2 linked regions of the Homo sapiens genome follow. The protein of the gene in region 2 purifies or fractionates together with the protein of the main gene of each other region. This does not show direct contact. Each region holds a gene or a part of one and is shown on either strand. Other genes may lie near its edges. The genes, in order: MARK1 and CEP85L.

What was found.
Region 1: the proteins of CEP85L (region 2) and MARK1 purify together in Homo sapiens (affinity purification with mass spectrometry; one large-scale study listed by BioGRID and IntAct). This does not show direct contact.

What each region holds. Positions count from the first base shown.
Region 1 is NC_000001.11:220,530,936-220,534,766, forward strand, and holds part of MARK1 (serine/threonine-protein kinase MARK1), read left to right. Parts: intron 1-3,831. UniProt on the Homo sapiens protein: Serine/threonine-protein kinase. Involved in cell polarity and microtubule dynamics regulation. Phosphorylates DCX, MAP2 and MAP4. Phosphorylates the microtubule-associated protein MAPT/TAU.
Region 2 is NC_000006.12:118,466,586-118,470,416, reverse strand, and holds part of CEP85L (centrosomal protein of 85 kDa-like), read left to right. Parts: intron 1-1,113; coding exon 1,114-1,345; intron 1,346-2,876; exon of another isoform or gene 2,877-2,958; intron 2,959-3,831. UniProt on the Homo sapiens protein: Plays an essential role in neuronal cell migration.

The sequences.
Region 1 (3,831 bases), on a different chromosome or scaffold from region 2:
ATGTTCATTTTTTAGGTAAAGGGTTGGGAAGGGGATATAGAAGTAGTGTTTAAGATAAAGTCTCTCCCTGCAAGGAGCTTACAGAAGAGATAATAATCCCAAACAAGTAATGTATGGTAGAAGACATTGTGTAAATAGGGCTAAATTGGTTTATAGGTGTTATAGGTGTTTATCAAAGAGGCCACCACTGATGGCTACGAAATCACCATTGGTGACTCTCTTTATTCTCTAGTTGGTAGTAAATGGCATCATCCATTTTTACTTCTCATCGATGAAATAAAGTAACAAGCCTGCTTGTTAGCTAATATATTAATGCCAGTATGGCAGCCAAAATGTATTTTTGTTTATAGTCATTTTCAATTACATGACATATTTTTAAAAATAGTTACAAAACTTTTATATTCATATGACTATTAAAGGGTTCTAAGTCCTTTGGTATATCAAGGACACTAACTAAAAACATTTTATTTTCCTTAGAAATTAAAATCAACAAATACAGTAATTTAAAACACCATCTTGATATTTCGTTGTCGTTTGCAGTTAATATAAACATTTCTTTGGTCATCCATATAACGTATTTGGATTTTGTGTCCTTGGGAATATATAATATCTACCCTTCTCAGTGTCACTAATATATATTCAGGATAAATAAAAATCCCAAAAGAGGAATATTATAGCACTGATCTCTTATATACTACTGCTATATATAGTAGAATGAGAAAGAATTGCTTTTCTCTAAGAACAGTCTATGTGTACTTTTTCAGGAGTATTTTCTTTGATGAAAGATTTGTGTGTGCCTTGTTAATAGGCCTCAACGGGCTAAATACAACAGGACAACCAATGATTAACTTTTAAGGCAATAAACACTTTGTAGTAAAGTAAAAAAAATGTGTTGCAGATAATAGAATCTATGCAAAATGTGTTTGATTTTAGATTATAAACAGTAAGTCCAGAAAAAGAGTAAAAAAGATTTCTCTTTTTTTCTTTTGTTAGATTTTATTTGGATAATTCCACCATGGATATAGATAATATATTATCATTACTCTTACATGTTTTTTAATGAAACAAGAAAAAAAATTTAGTATTTGGGAAAAACTCCGATTATGCTAATTATTAATGGGTCAAAAATGCTCAGCCTAGCTTTCTGTGATGAAATTTTGATCAGTATGAAGAAAACTCTTTTGACTACTTCTTGGAATGTTTTAAAATTGAATTCAGTTAGACTAAAAAGCCTTTAATAAAAAAAGACTCGATGTTGAGTCTTGTGACATACTGAAATTCATGGCGGTGATTATAATGATTACCTATTGTAACTAAGGTTGCCATCAGTAGTTTGTCTTTTGAGAATCATTGTTAATGGCATGAAGAAGCGAGAGGAAAGCATACCTTTGTCACTATCCTTGGATTTTCTGTGCATCCTTCACATGTCACAGTACCTATCACATAGCATCTAATTGCCTGACTTTGTCTCCCTTAGTCTGTGTTGCCAGTGCCCAGCACAGTGACTAGTACAGTATATAAGAAATCAGTGCTGTAACACCCCCTTTGAATTTTTTCATTTATCATCAAAATATATTGGTGACATTGGTGAGGGTAGACATTACGTATTACAACCTGAGAGGCTGAATGAAGCCTTCAGAGAGAAAATTTAGTGACCTACCCAAGGTTAATAATTCTATCCTTCAAGGTGAATAATGAAAATCTGACACCTTCCACTATTACTGTACTCATGCTGTTACTTCGAGAAAGTGTTTTTTTGTTTTCTTTTGTTTTGTTTGTGTCTTAAAGAGTTTAGAAGAGTGGCTCATGCCTCTAATCCCAGCACTTTGTGGGGCCGGGGTGGGAGGATTGCTTGAATCCAGGAATTCGAGACCAGCATGGGCAACATGGAGAAACCCTGTCTCCACTAAAAATACAAAAATAAGCTGGGCATGGTGGTGTGTGCCTGTAGTCATTCACAGCTACTAGAGAGGCTGAGGTGGGAGGGTTGCTTGAGCCGAGGAGATAAAGGCTACAGTGAGCCAAGATCACACCGCTGCACTCCAGCCCGGGTGACAGAGTGTGAACCCTTTTTTTTAAAAAAAAAAATAGATTTTAGAAGAGCATATGAAATGGTATAAGATACTTTATTAGAGGAAGAACAGGGTATGCCGTCCCTATCCCTACTTCTGAACCTTTACTGTTTTCTGTGTGGAGTGCCTTGCACTTGTCCCTTCATATCAAATTTACAAATCCTTTATGGCTTGTCTCATTGTTTTAACAAGACTTCTGAAATGATTGCAGCTAATATTGTTGTTTGTTGTAGCTGAACAGTGGTGGATGTATATAGTACACATCAGTGGTCTCTAAAGTGGGTGTGCAGGGCAATACATTGGAAGAAGAAATGTATTTAATGTTTGTCACTTCACTTCTGACCTACATGCTATTATTACGTCTTTTTTTTTTATAAAAATCCAGTTCATATAGAATTAGACACATGATTTTAAAGTTATTATTATTGTTATTATTTTTCCTCTTCCATCTCATTGTTTCCTTTGGGTGTCATTTTCTCTTTTCCTGATGAATATCTGTGGAAGTTCTTTTGGTGCAGGATTGTTAGTGATGAACTTTTTTAGATCTGAAGACATATTTTGCCCTAATTCTTAAACGATAGCTTTGCTTAGTCTGTAACTCTAGGTTGATAGTTTGATTTCTTTCACCACTCAGAAGGTAGTATTCCATTGTCTATTGATATACATTGTTTCTGTTCAGGAGTCATCTGCTATTTGGTGTGTGATCCTTTCTGTCTGTCTCTATCTTGTGTGGATTCATATGTCTCATCAGTTATGGGAATGTACCAACCATTATGTCTTTGAATGTTACCTTACCTCTGTTCTGCATAGTATTTCTGGCACTCTGGTTAGATGTGCGAAAATTTATCATTCTATCCTTCATGTTTAACCTGTCATTTATTTTTTTCCTCCTATTTCACTGTTTATCTGTACTCCAATCTGTAGTATAACCTATACTATAGTTACCATATATGTTTAGATCTTTCTTCAGCTGTATATAACCCTGTTAACCTATCTGTTGAATTTTTTTTCATTGTGGTAAAAAGCACACATCAGATACACCCTTTTAACAAATTTTTAAGTGTGCAGTACAGTATTTTTGGTGGGGAGGGAGTAGATTTTAGTGGTGGTAAGGTGGCAATTTTATTTTTTTATTTTTTCACGTCTTATTTTTTATTTAATTTTATGATATGTATTAGATCTATTAGTGCATATTTTGGGGGTATATGTGTTAATTTGATACATTCATATAATCAAATTAAGGCAATTGGGATATCTATCACTTTACATATTGATCTTTTCATTATACTAGCAACATTAAAATTATTCTAGCTATTTTGAAATGTACAATTGATTAGTTAACTATAGTCACCTCAGTGATCTATTGAACACGAGGTCTTTTTCCTTCTAAGTGTATGTTTATACTCATTAATCAATCTCTCTTCATCCTCCCCTTCCTACTAACCCTTTCTAGCCTTTGTTAACCACCAATCTACTCTCTATCTTCATGAGATCGCTTTTTTAACTCCCACATATGAGTGAGAACATATTTGTCTCTCTGTACTTGGCTTATTTCACTTAACATAATGACCTCCAATTTCATCCATAGGCACAATATTGTACAGCACATCTCTAGAAATTTTTCATCTTGTGTGACTGAAACAGTGTACATATTGAACAGCAACTCCCTATTTCCCTTTCTTTCCAGACCCTGGCAACCACCATTCTTATTTTCTGCTTTGATGAGTTTGACTACTTTAGATACCTCACAAAAATGGGA
Region 2 (3,831 bases):
TTCCATTGTTTCTTACCAAAATTATTATAAAAAGACAAACCTTTATTTATTTTGTGTTTTAGAATACAGTTTCACATAATTATAGTACAGTATATATTTATTATATTTATTAGCTGGCATTCATCTATAAAAAAGTTTTTTTCCAATCACCCCAGGCTATTGAGTTATTCTGAAATACAGTTCCAATTGGAAAGCTAATTAAAGTTACCTTTAATTAGCAGTTTTCAAGATAAGAAGGTAGCAGTTTTGGGGATCAGCAATTCAGAGTTGTTGGTTTTTTCTTTTTTTCTTCTTCTTTGATTTTATACTTGTTATTTCTTTGTCTCTCGCACCGAAGTTTGTGGTTCCTATCAACATTAACATAGATGCTTCCCCCCACCAATATGCAAAAAGTAGTTTCAAAGTAATTAAACCACTATTGCTACTAACAATAAAAACCACAGAGTGAGGTTCAAAGTTACTTTTTAGTTCTTTTTATCCTTGGAATAAATCTCATTATAGAAAAATACAGGCTGGGTATGGTGGCTCACACCTGTAATCCTAATACTTTGTTTTGGGAACCTGAGGTGGGCAGATCACTTCACCCCAGGAGTTTGAGACCAGCTTAGGCAATGTGACAAAACCCTCTCTCTACAAAAAATGCAAAAATTAGCCAGGCATCATGGTGTTTACCTGTGGTCCCAGATATTCAGGAGGCTGAGGTGGGAGGATCACCAGAGCCCGAGGAGGTCAAGGCTGCAGTAGTGAGTCATGATTGCGCCACTGTACTCCAGCCTGGGTGACAGATTGAGGCCCAAAAAAGAAAAATACATACACAACCAACATGCTTATTACGTGAGAGACTCCTAGAAACTGAGACTGGATTTATGTTTCCTCCCTTGGATATACGCTAAAGCATCAGATGGCACAGAGAAACAATTTCCACTATTTAAATTGTTATTTTTCTATGTGTTTTTTTTCCCACTGCATATATGTAGTTGAATTTGGTTAATGTGCATATAATATGACTCCATCGTTTTGTTTATAGACTTGGGGGAGAATGTTAACCTGTATGGCTTTGAGTACCTTTCCTCTGTTCTAACAATCTGATGTTTGTTTTCTTTATCCTTGCAGAACCAAAGACAAACAGATGAGACATGCTCTTTATTGGATCAGGGCCAGGAACCTGACCAATCTAGGCAGCAGACAGTTCTTTCCAAACGGCCACTATTTGATTTGACTGTGATTGATCAGCTGTTCAAGGAAATGTCCTGTTGTTTGTTTGACTTGAAAGCATTGTGTAGTATTCTTAATCAGCGTGCTCAGGGCAAGGAGCCTAATCTTTCATTATTACTGGGAATAAGATGTAAGTGTCTGATGACTTGTCCTTATTTTGTGGCAATTAGAAACCTATCTTCATGAATCAGGAACTTCCGACTGCCTTTTCTCTGTTTATTTTTGTAATCTCTTTTCCTACTTAGAATCAGTCTGTGGGTTTATGTATACCTGTTATTACTTCATTGCAAGAAGTGAGTAGGGTTATAGCTGACATTAACTGCCACTTGGTAGAATGCCTGGTGATGTTTCCTATGTTGAATCTGTAAATATGTGAATAGAGTGGTAGTTAGGTGTGACTTCCCATTTTCTCTTCCAAAAATAATGATTCCTTCTATTTGCTTTCATGTGTTAGTTGTATAGATTAAGTGACCCAACCATATTGTCCACTGGTAAAATATTTGAGAAATATTTTTGCTTTCCAGTGCAGTATATGTTCTATGGCAGCTGCTTCACGTGAGTGCCAGTGATTTCACATGAGCCAGTTTTCACAGCCTACAAATCTGTTGCCTTTGTCATGCGTACCTGCTGGCTTAATGTGACACCCATTCACTCTTGGCCTCAATTCTGTCTTCCTCCACACATAATTGTGGGAGCTGCCACAGTAATAATCCTAGTGTCCCTTTCTTTCTGTGCTACTTTTGCAGAAACGCTCATCTCTGTACGTGGTTCCAAATCAGGATGTTAGTCTCTTTATAATAGAGAAGAAATGAACTTGGAAGGAAATAGGAATGCAGTAAGACCATATAATAAGGTTTATGGGCCAACGTGTATTTAGTAGCTGCCTAATATTATGGTTAATAATACTGGTTTTGTTTCAAACAAACTGATTTTGTTTCTAGTTTCATCAAAAAGATTCCACCATTTTGCATCATAATAGTTATTTTGGCAAATCAAATAATGCTCTTGACCAAAGTATATCACTTGTTAAATGAAACATTATCTGTGCTCAACTATGTCCCTTTCATTTCATAGACATTTGTACACATACACAAATGTGGATATCGAAAAAACACATAATGTTTAAGTATATTCACTCACGGAGTAAACATTTATCAGATGCCTTCTATGGTCCAGACACTAAGTAAGTGCTGGTAATGCAGATAACCTGAACACAGTCCTTGTCCACACATTAACCAAATTATTAGAGCATTCTGATAGGTGCTATAGTTGAGATGTGGACAAAGGACAGTGGGAGCACAAGAGGAAAAAAACAACTAAATCTACGTGGGAAGGGCTGTGGAGACTCCACAGAGTAGTTGGTGTTCAGTGTCGCTCTCAGACGAGGAAGAGGAGAAGTTTGCCTGGTGAACATGGAGTGCTTTAATATCTCTTGGGAGCAAGAAGCAAAGCTCACACACAAAGGGAACTCACTTTCTTCATGATTTTAGAGTTGGTCACCCTTTTAATTACTTTAGAGTCTCCTACATTTTCACTGTCATAAGGTAGCATTTGTTAAGTTTTTCAGTAATAGAGTAGTAGAGCTATCCTAATGTGAATCTTACCACGCCCACCTCCCAATACTCCTTCTAGTCTTTAAAGTTTGACCCCAGAATCCTTACCTTATATTTGGCATTGTGAAAGTTTTACCAGCCAGTTGATTTGTGAAAAACCAGTCACTTCATGGCTCCATTTACTCACCCTGTCCTTCTGAAAACTGTGCACTACCTTGGTTTCCATGACATCATTCTCTAGGTTCTGCTTCTGCCTTTATGACTGCTCAGTCTCTGTCTTCTGTGGACTTCTCTGCCACTTAATTATTGGTATCCCCAGAAGCCTTTTGTTACTGGTTTTGTGTTTGTTTCTTTTTATTCAGTACTTTATCTGAGTGATCTTATCCACTCCTGTTTTTTCTGTTACTGCCATACCTTTCACCTAGACATTTATCTCCTTTACCCAGACATTTATCTCCTCTGGGCTCCAGATTATATTCCCATGTATATTAGAACTGGCTATTTCAAATGCATCACAGACTCTACACATTCAAAACCAGAACACACTTTCCTTCCCTCCCTGAACCGGTTCCTCTTCTCAGTGAGTAACACCACCATTCACCTGTCACTTGAACCCAGAATTTATTCTCCACTCTGCTTTTTCCTTCATCTGGCGCCTGTGCCCAATCCCTGCCCATCACTCAAGTTGATGATGATTGAGTGCTATCAGTTCTGTCATCTGCTTACTACATCTAACATTCCTGCCCTTCTATCTCCATTGCACTATTGCCTTAATTTAAGTTTTCATAACCCGTCACCTATACTGGTCTCTCTGACAACCATCTTTCTCATCCCCTCCCCCTAATCCATTTTACATTGTTGCCAGACAGATCTGTCTAAACTATGAACCTGGTTTCCTAATGCCTACACTGCTCTGTGGTCAAGATAGGTAGCTACTACCTACCTCTATAGCCTTATTTCTTGGTACTCTCCTTTGTCACAGTTTGTACTCTACCATTTTAGAGCTAGATACTGATTTTCTTGAGGTTTCTCAAATTCTATCATACTGTTTTGCTTTCTGACT